Linked DNA regions of Homo sapiens: region 2 is linked to region 1. A link means that fine-mapping ties the variant in region 1 to the expression of a gene that starts in the linked region. Tissue or cell type: tibial nerve. Region 1 holds a variant in brackets; the other region holds the start of a gene. All regions are shown on one strand. Distances are from middle to middle. Region 1 overlaps HOMER2 (homer scaffold protein 2). Region 2 holds the start of HOMER2 (homer scaffold protein 2).

Evidence for each region. PIP is the estimated chance that this variant, and not a neighbour inherited with it, causes the effect.
Region 2: HOMER2 starts here. The variant in region 1 is the best candidate, but not a certain one, in a credible set for the expression of HOMER2 in tibial nerve (GTEx, PIP 0.90).

What each region holds. Positions count from the first base shown.
Region 1 is chr15:82,916,653-82,922,024 of GRCh38, forward strand. All of the region lies in intron 1 of HOMER2 (homer scaffold protein 2), which reads right to left. It overlaps LOC105370928 (a long non-coding RNA gene), which reads left to right. Exons shown (of 5, transcript XR_007064741.1): 3 at 663-714; 4 at 2,651-2,765. Among named protein-coding and RNA genes, the nearest start is that of HOMER2, 33 kb to the right of the region's middle. The variant G/A (reference allele first, on the strand shown) is at 3,299.
Region 2 is chr15:82,950,726-82,956,097 of GRCh38, forward strand. HOMER2 (homer scaffold protein 2) reads right to left here and starts at 1,995. Exons shown (of 9, transcript NM_004839.4): 1 at 1,806-1,995. The coding sequence starts at 1,810. RefSeq lists an enhancer at 1,245-1,745.

The sequences.
Region 1 (5,372 bases):
AGGGGGAGAGGTTAAGTACTCTCAAGAGCTTTAGATGGCAAAGGGACAAAGATGACACAAGCTGGATGGGGACTTGGCACTAAGAGAGCTGAGCCCTGAGTTGCCAGCTGCTTGGCCCAAAGTATGGGCTGCTCTGGAAAGAGCCAGAGCCCTCATTTTTTTTTTTTTGAGACAGAGTCTCACTCTGTTGCCAGACTGGAGTGCAATGGCGCGATCTCGGGTTACTGCAACCTCCACCCCCTGGGTTCAAGTGATTATCCTGCCTCAACCTCCCGAGTAGCTGGGATTACAGGCGCACGCCACAATGTCCAGCTAATTTTTGTATTTTTAGTAGAGACGGGGTTTCACCATGTTGGCCAGGATGGCCTCGATCTCTTGACCTTGTGATTCGCCTGCCTCGGCCTCTCAAAGTGCTGGGATTACAGGTGTGAGCCACCGTGCCCGGCCCAGAGCCCTCATTTTACAATTTTTGTTTTTTTCTAACTCACAGTTAACCCACTGAACAAGAAGTACCCATTTCTGATTTGCATTTTCCCTATAAATCCCATTATTGAAAGAGTTTGCCCTTCTAGGCAGAATTTATGAAAAAGTAATTTATTTCCTCATTTCTTCATTGCTCTAAGAAGTCACATATAACCGCCAAACGGTTTTCTAATCTGCAGGATATCACCAAGGTGGCCTCAAGAATTGATAGGATCCCAGCCACAAGTGAAGGTATGTTACCAGCTAGAGCAGGCTGAGAGCAGAACAGCTGCCCTTTATCTTGGGGAAATAGCACAGGCACCTGTCCCTCCTCTCCCAGGGCCCCAGGGGGAACTGCTGGAACAGCCCTTTCCTTCGCACCCAAGGACATGGCACATGATACCAAAGACACATGCAGGAAGGTGCAAGCGGGGAAGATCCGCCCCCGTGGGGACAGCAGCAAACCCCAGTGTATGTGAGAGGGAGAAGTTACGTGTTTAGAATATTATGAGATTGAGGCATTTAAGGGAAGTCTTCAAGGAAGGAAAACTAGTTAAGAAGAATAAACCCATTGTTCTACAGCCATGGTGAGCTTGCTGTAAACACTTGGAAACAGTGTGCCTCCCACCAGCCTTTCATATGCTGCAGGCCTATGCACACAGTAGGCCCAAAATACTTGCTAAACTAGATTATTTGGCTTTAAAATTATATCACATGTGCCCAGCAAGGCAAAACTCATCTCTATTATTTCCCACAATGTCAAGGGCAAAAGTGAAATCAACCTCATCTGGTCTAAGACAGGTGTGGGGGCCCCAAATCCTTATAGTTTAGGGGCGAGACTGCTGCTGAGACTAGAGCCCTGCAGGACTGGGTCAGCCTGCTCCTCAGCTGGACCATCTACTCCGAGGAGCAGCTCGGAGCAGGATCATGGAGAACACCTGGGCAGCAAATGGCCCAGAGCTAACTAGGGACTAAAAGCAGGCAGCATTGCCCGAGCCGCATTACACACTCATCAAAGTCCCAGTGTCTACTCTCATAAGAATCCTTCAAAAATCTAACGCTTGACCCTAGGGACACAGAGATATATAGACGCCATCCCTCCCGGACAGCACTCACTGGCAGTGACTCAGGATGAGTACTGGGTGCAGAAACTCCAGCACCTGAGGGTACAGATACTCAGGCCACGGTGCTCTGGGGTTCAGGTGTCACAGCCAGAGGTCTTTGCCAGGGATCCTCTAGAGCAGGCAGATGCTATTCTCAGGACAGTGTGATCATGTTGGGACAGTGCCCACGGGACAGGATACCACAGTGCTCAGATTTCTCTCCTACCAGGGCCTCATTTCCGTGTCCTACTTGAGTATCAGGCCCCACCTCAGCAGGTGAGGCTGGGTGGTCTGGTGGGGGCTCATTCCCTTAGTTCTTCTCCATGGGGTTTCCCCTCCACACTCACCTCCACAGCTTTGAGGACATGTCTATGTGATGACACCTGAATGTGTACCTCCAGCCCAGGTGTCTCTCCTGAACCCCATGCTTGCACCTTACCTCCCTGCTGCTGTTCTCCCTGCACCCCTATTTCAGTGACTCACACCACTGGATCTGTCACTATGGCAGAAACCTGGGAATCTCACACCCAGCACACAGCAGGAACATCTCCCTCGCTGTCCTCTCCTCAGCAGCCCAGGCTGTCAGCCTCCTACCTAGTAGTGTCCTCCAATGGGCCACAGGTGTGTTGAACTCGGCCCCGTAAATGGCTGTGCAGGGCACAACTCTGAGTGTCAATCATGAAAGACACGCAGACTCATTACATCAACTGCCTGGCAGATCACAGATTTCCAGAAGGTGTCTTAAAGAAGCGTTTTTTTCTAATTTGTACAAAGATGTCACTTGTCCTGGGAAGAAGTAGCCTGCTGAGAAGGGGATCTCAACCCTCAGGGTGCAGAGCAGGGCCTGGGCCACAGGAGTCCCAGGGCTGGGCACTGTTTTGTCCATTTGCCTAGGTGCTGTAAACATATTTTCCATGTGTCCGTGACACTAAAAAGATTGGGAAACACTGACCTAGATTACACCAATAGCCCCTCTGTGCTTCTGGATCTCTTCTGTTGGCAAAAACAAGCTCAGGTCTCTCCCATTTATACCAGACATGTAAGTTAACATGCCTGCTCTACCCAACACCTCTCTCTGCCTTCAGGCCTTACTCAGGGAAGTCACAACGGGTTGCTCGTCCATACAGGATCAAGGACAGGTTGGCCTGTTGGCCAGACGCCCAGCACAAACAGCTCAGCCCAGTGAGGGAGAGTCATTAGGTAAGCCATCAACCACCTCCCTGCAGAATTCAGTCATCATTGTTGCATGTGGAGTCCCTTCTCATACATAATCATACATTACTAGTATAATAATCCAATTATCCAACTCTCCCAACAAAGAGGCTTCACAGATCAAACTGACCTCAGGTTTGAGCATTATTTACAAAAAGGTCAACCAGAAATTAATTGGAACGTCCAGTACCAGGAAGAATCAAGTCAATAAATTAACACAATAGAGTACTATGTAACCCTTTTAAAAAAGAACATTCTTATGACTATATAAATATTGTTCCCTGCAGAGGCAAAAAATGTGCCAGGATTATAGTTCTTTCTGTACAGTTCCAATGTCAACAGCAGAGTGCTACTCACAGGAAAACATTCCTAGTATCAAGGTCAGAGAGAAGCTTCTCCTTTCTAGCACTCTCCCAGTTGTTCAAAAGCAGGCGGTATCTTTCGTGCACTTCATATTTGAAACATGACATGCTTGTGATAATTTTTAATTTTTGTGATGTTTTCCTATTGCCTTCTCTATC[G/A]AGGAAAGAAACACAGCCCGTCTTCCCATAACCCTAGTATATTCCAGCTTGTTCACTCTGTCCATTGTCTGGAATCTGCTCCAGTCTCTGTCCTCAAGATATTATTCTTGGAGCCAGTAACTTCCACCTGTAATTTGGAGTGAATGCTTCTGAGGCCCATTCATAGCCATCTGTCCAGAAGTTCTTTTCACCAGACTCCCAGGAGCCATCAATTCTTTTTGCCCACTTCCCCACATCATGACCTCCTTCATAGTCTTCGCCATTGTTTTGCTGTTGTAGATCCTCAAGATGAGCGGGAGGTCAACTTTAAGTCCTTGCACATCAGGAATGGCCTTTACTTTCCCCCTTATACTTGATTGGTTTTGGCTGGATGTATCCTAGGGCTGCTGTACCAAATTCCCACAAACTTGGGGGCTTACATGACAGGAATTTATTTTCTCACAGCTCTGGAGGGCAGAAATCCGCAGTCAGTTGACTGGGCTGAAACCAAGGTGTCGCCAGGGCCATGCTGCCTCCAGAGGCTCTAGGGTTGGAAGCTCTAAGGAAGCATCCATTGCCCCACCTTTCCCAGCTTCTAGAGCTGCGTTCCTTGGCTCATGGCCTCCTCCTCCATCTTCAAAGCCTGCAGCAAAGCATCTTCAAAGCTCTCTGCAGAGATCCTCACATCCTCTTCTCTATTCTGTGTGTAGTAAAATCTCCCTCTGCTACTCTCTTCAGAACACTTGTGATTACACTGGGCCCTGGATAATGCAGGATAACCTCCCCATCTCAAAGTCCTTAACTTATCATATCTGCAAAGACCCTTTAACATATACGGTAACGTAGGTTCAGAAATGAGCATCTGATATATCTATGGGAGACATTTTTTAGCCTACCACTCTGGGGGTAAAACAATCTTTTTTTTTTTTTTTTTTAAGACACAAAGTCTTACTATGTTGCCCAGGCTAGATTCAAATTCTTGGGCTCAAGCAATCCTCTTACTTCAGCCTCCCTAGGAGCTGCGACTACCACAGCACTCAGCTTAAAACAATTGTTTTAAATGGCTTAAAAAAAATGATTTTCAGACGGGCATGGTGGCTCACACTTGTAATCCCAGCACTTTGGGAGGCCAAGGTGGGCAGATCACCTGAGGTCAGGAGTTCAAGACCAGGCTGGCCAACATGGGGAAACCCCATCTCTACAAAAAATACAAAAAATTAACCAGGTGTGGTGGCACACACCTGTAATCCCAGCTAGCTGAGGCACGAAAATCACTTGAACCCGGGAGGCGGAGGTTGCAGTGAGCCAAGATCGCACCACTGCACTCCAGCCTGGAGGACAGAGTGAGACTCCATCTCAAAAAAAACAGGTTTTCCCTCATGTGCCACTGTGCAGGCCTTGCTCCACTCTTCTCCTGTCATCTTATCTGATGAGAAGCTGCTTCTGCTGGCTCCTCCTCCCCTTCCGGACTCCTTGGTGCTGGAGCACGTCACACTTTCCCCCTTTCCCCACGCTGATCTGAGCTGATACCATGCTTCCAAATACCATCCGCCTACCCTGGATGCACGCCAGACCAAGGAAGACTTTATTCTAGAATGCCAACATCCACACTCCCAGTCTTGGCTCTGCCAGTGGAGTCCACTCGTCCCCCATCCCGCTGATATGCACAGTGTCCCTGTGGCAGGAGTATCACCTAGTATCACCTGAGACCTCCAATTAAAGCCCCAGCTTCAGCACCACTTCTCACTCCTGCCCTTGCTGGACCTGCAGACTCAGTTCAGAGGGTCTCTGGGGTTGTGCAGGGCAGACTGGTCAGCTACCCCAACTCCCTGTGGCCCCTCCACTCAGACTCTGGGCTCTGGTCTCCTCTGTGCTATATTTCTGACATTGCCTTTCCTCTACTAGCTTTCTATGGTCCAGAAATTTATTGTAATCTCTCAACTACTGATAATTCCCTCCCATTCATTTTGCTGTCCTGGGATTATACTTTTCATAATCTCCTTATTATCATTTTAATGGGTTCTGGGGAGAGAAGGTATAAATAAGCACAAGTGCTGAATCCTCCATCTTGAACATTAAGTTAATCTCATTCATT
Region 2 (5,372 bases), 34 kb after region 1:
AAATTACATGAAAGACATATTCTGTGTTTAAACAAAATCCCCAAGCGTCTCCTCCCTGCTTCTCCACAAACAAAAATTATTTTTTGACATTTTCTTTAAGGTTTTATGAGTGAGTAAACATTTTCATTTCCACAGAACTATTTGATCTCAACCACAGAGTTTCAGTACTTGTTTTTGATCACACAAGTACGGTGGATTGGTTTTGTGTTGGCCAGGGGGAGGGAGGGCCAGAAAGAGAGTTAAAATTACCGGATCCCTTTTATCTTCCATTCTGAGACCTTACATTTGCCAACTCCTTTTTCCCTGTACATTTTTTTAAAGTATGAAATCTGAGAACCTCAAAGGCTCTCACTGCTCAAAGATCAGCCTTTTCACAGTCCACTGAGGACTCACTGGAAATGTTACAGAAATACGGCCTGCCAACTTGGGTGCCTCTGGGTAAAATCACCCACAGTTGCTGTTCATGTGAAATCTCCTAAATGTAAGCACACTTCTTCAGCCCTCGCTGCTCATCTCGCCTCCTCCTCTCTGTCACCCACCTCTGTCATGTCCAGTTCATGTTGGCCCACAGCCCTCACACTTCCATTCCTCAAAATTCCTCTTGGCCTGCCTCTGATCCCCTCACACACTCTGCAGCTCCCATGGCTAAGACTCACCAGGCAAAATGACTCCAGAAACTTAACCTGGAGTACGGTGCAAGAAAGCCACTGACCCAGGGGGGCTGAGCCAGGGCACCAGGACAATCTTGCTCCTTCCACTGCACTCTTGCCTTCCCAGGCCCCACCCATCCCAAACAGGAAAGCAAGATCTCTAGACCCTTGGAGCAGAAGCATTTGAGTCCTGCGAAGGGCTGTTGGAAGAATGCTGGGTTCAGCAGCAGGGAACAGAGAGATTTAGGAATTCTGGTTCACTTACCCGCCTCCATGCCCACGTCAGGCAGTGGCAAGGCCACCCCTGCTACACAAATGCTCATCAACTACACAGCCTGGGGGAAGTCACCGAACCACTTTGTGCCTCAGTTTCCTCATCTGTAAAGTGGACATAAGTGTCCCCTGAATACGTATGGCAAACCGTCAACGTGTGCCCAAATAGAGTGAGCAGATGTAAGGAGTTATTGTGCTATTAGCACAGTGGCTCCCAGACTCACAGAGCCTACTGCTCAGAGAGACGCCGAGGGGAAAGCTTAAATTACTTTATATACTCAGAAGCATTAGTCACTTCGACAGAGTATTTCAACTTCCCTCCTGAGCATCTACTCAGTTGTTTCAAAGACTGAAGCCTCACCTAGGTTCCTTATAGACTTCCATCATCTTCAGCATCTCAAAGCAGATCCAAAGTCCACTATTCCTACGCTGGAGGTTTATTATTATTTGATTATTTCCAGGAAAACTTCGATTTCCATTTTGCTTGTAATAAATCCAAACGTGGAGAACGACAAACTGCTTAGACTCACACAGGCCCTGGAGTTGACTGCGCCCAGGGGCGAAGAGACCGCGGAATGGCCGAGGCAGGAGGCCGGCCAGGGCACCGGTCCCCGTCAGGTGCCCCCGTGCCCGGGCTGTATGGGAGGGGAAGGGCCACGGGCTCCGCGCCCAGGCCAGGGTGCCCCTGCTGGGTGTCCGCGTGCCCCGGCGGAGGGCGCGGGTCAGGTGGCCCCAGACTCCCGGGCGCAGAGTGTGCGCTCGCTCCGGCTTGGGGAGGCGGGGGCCGGCCCGCCGGGAGGCTCCGAGCCCGGTTACGCCAGCCGCGGCCCCGCAGTCCCTCCGGAGGGGCGCGCGGAGAGCGCGCGGCGCGGGCTCACTCACCCCATCTCCGGCGCTGCTCCGGCGGCCGCTCCGACGGGGCCTCTCGCGCTCGCTCTCCGCCCGCTCGGCAGCCGCTCCCCGCGCGGCACATGCGGCGGCCCGTGCGCGCCCGGCTCAGCCCCGGCGCCGCTCCATTCCGCGGGGCTGCGCGGCTGCCACTGCTGCCACTGCCGCCACCGCCGCCAGGCGCGGGCGGGCGGGGGCTGGGCGGCCGCGCTGGGGCGGTGCCCGCCCCGCCCTCCCCAGCCGCTACCCCCGCCCGGCTCCTTACGTAACCTCGTGGCCCCCGGGCCGCGGCAGCGAGCCAAGAGGCGGGGGGCGCAGCACTGTGTGCACCGTCCCCCGCGCAGCCGCGCAGTCGCCGCTTTTCTCCCGGGCCACCCAGTCCTCGGTGCCGGCCCCGCGTTGGCGCGCCCCCGCCCCACGCCGACCCGGGGCCCTGGCGCAGTGCCATCAACATCCTGCCTGATGGACTTAAAGTCCCATTCACACCTGGCGGGGACTTTAGGGCTACCTTTACTTTGCAGATAAGGGAACCGAGGCCTGGGGAGGGTAAGTGATTTGCCCAAGGTCACACATTCAGATTAGAGTTCGTTCGGGTCTCCAGAGTCTGAGATGGGCATAGCTGTGCTCCTCCTTAAAGCCCACCTTCATCTTCCTGCCAGTTGCCCGGCCGAGTGGCCTTAAGGTACCCGCCACCGTGAAATTTCGGAAGCCAGCCTGGCAGAGAAGAGCCTACAGGCCGCGGCAGATGCTCTGGGCTCTTTCCTGGATAAAAATGAGATGAGGGCTCCCACTTGAAGGGGCAGTTTTAAGGCGGCTTCATCAAGCTTGGTTTTATCCTTAGAGCGAGGGGAATTAGGATGGCAAAAGTAGAACTTGAAGAAGAGCAGGCTCTCTTCGTCGCCTTTCTACCTATCAGGTCCTGAGTTTCTACCAAAGGCTGGCACTGGGACTAACCTAACCTTCATCCCCCGGGACTTCCACGGGATCATCTTCTGCTGGGAACACACCGCCCACATAAGCCTGGCATCTCAGGACAGTAAAAAAGTCAAGGGACAGGTCGGGCGCGGTGGCTCACGCCTGTAATCCCAGCACTTTGGGAGGCCGAGGCGGGCGAATCACGAGGTCTGGAGATCGAGGCCATCCTGGCTAACACGGTGAAACCCCGTCTCTACTAAAAATACACACACACAAAAAAAATTAGCCGGGCGTGGAGACAGGCGCCTGTAGTCCCAGCTACTCCGGAGGCTGACGCACAAGAATCGCGTGAACCTGGAAGGCGGATCTTGTAGTGAGCCGAGATCGCACCACTGCACTCCAGCCTGGGCAACAGAGCGAGACTCCGTCTCAAAAAATAAATAAATTAATTAATTAAATACATAAATAGCCGGGTGTGGTGGCGTGCTCCTGTAGTCCCAGCTACTCCCAGCTACTCGGGAGGCTTGATGCAGGAGAATCGCTTGAACCCAGGAGGCAGGGGTTGCAGCGAGCCGAGATCATGCCACTGCACTCTAGCCTGGTGAAAAGAGCCAGACTGTCTCAAAAAAATAAATAAATAAATACAAAATAAGTTTGTAAAAAATAAAATAATCTTGGGAGTTTCCAAATCCTCCATGCATAGTAATCAGCAATATCAGGAAAGTGAGCTTGTAGAACACTGAACAAGTCATTTATCAGGTAATACCTGAGGATTCTGAAGTGTTCGAATAACTTCAAAGGCAAGCCACTGAAATCAGAGTTTTTCATTTTTATTTTATTTTTATTATTTTTTTTTTGAGACGGAGTCTCACTCTGCTCACCCAGGCTAGAGTGCAGTGGCAGTGGCGTGATCTCGGCTCACTGCAACCCCCACCTCCCAGATTCAAGCGATTCTACTGCCTCAGCCTCCCCAGTAGCTGCGACTGCAGGCGCATGCCACCACGCCCAGTTTTTTTTTTTTTTTGTATTTTTAGTAGAGACAGGGTTTCACCATGTTTCGATCTCCTGACCTCGTGATCCACCCGCCTCGGCCTCCCAAAGGGCTGGGACTACAGGCATGAGCCACCGTGCCTGGCCGAGTTTTTCATTTTTTTAAACTACAATCCACAGTAAGAAATATATTTTACACTACAACCTGCAACCTGGTACATACTTCAGCACATACATACTATGTCTATAGGTATATCGATATAAAATAGAAACAAAAAGTTATATAAAACAATGTTTATCCTCTCACTTGCCAGGCAGGCATTCAGACATCATTCTGTTTTGTTGTTGTTGTTGTTGAGACAGAGTGTTGCTCTGTCACCAGGCTGGAGTGCAGTGGCATGATCTCAGGGCACCACAACCTCCGCCTCCCAGGTTCAAGCGATTCTCCTGCCTCAGCCTCCCAAGTAGCTGGGACTACAGGCGCGCACCACCACCCCAGCTAATTTTTGTATTTTTAGTAGAGACAGGATTTCACCATGTTGGCCAGGATGGTCTCCATCTCTTGACCTCGTGATCGGCCCACCTCAGCCTCCCAAAGTGCTGGGATTACAGGCGTGTGCCACCGTGCCCGGCCCATTCTGTTCTATTTTTAAAAGCAGTACTGCTCATAACCTACTAAATTGATTTCAAAACCTATAATCTACGTATTTTTACTTTCTTTTTCTTTTTCTTTTTTTTTTTTTTTTGAGACGGAGTCTCACTCTGTTGCCCAGGCTGGAGTGCAGTGGCGCAATCTTGGCTCACTGCAACTTCTGCCTCCTGGGTTCATGCAATTCTCCTGCCTCAGCCTCCCGAGTAGCTGGGGCTACAAGCGCATGCCACCACACCTGGCTACTTTTTTGTAGTTTTAGTAGAGATGGGGTTTCACCATGTTAGCTAGGATGGTCTCGATCTCCAGACCTTGTGATCCGCCTGCCTCGGCCTCCCAAAGTGCTGGGATTATAGGCGTGAGCCACCATGCCCGGCCTGTATTTTTACTTTCAACAGCAAAATTAGGCTCACCATGTACATGCATAATGTTGTTATTAGTGTGCTCAGATTTCTGGTATGGCTGGTCCAGGGACTTCAAACATTTTTTTTTCTAACCATAAAAGGTCAGTTCTTTCAACTGCATATGAAACAAATGTATTATTAAAGCCATTAATTAAAGGGATAACTGTCGGGTATTATGCAGCTATTACATTATATTTGTGAAGCCTATATAGTAACATAGAAATATATTTATTCTTTCAATAAATGTTGATCACCTGCTGTGTATCTGGTACTGTGTTGGGCATAAAGTGCTCAGCAAAACAGACGTCCTTCTGTCATAGGACTATAAGATTGTGTGAATGGTATTAATCAAATAATCACACAAATATATAAGCTACGATCTGTGTGAATAGGAGACCTAATTTAGGTTGAGGAGGATGGTCAGGAATGGCCTGTTGAAGAGACATTTAAAAAGAGGCCTGATGGCTGGGTGTGGTGGCTCATGACTGTAGTCCCAGCACTTTGGGAGGCCAAGGCAGGCAGATCACTTGAGGCCAGGAGTTCAAGACCAGCCTGGCCAACATGGCAAAACCCCATCTTTACTAAAAATACAAAACCTAGCCA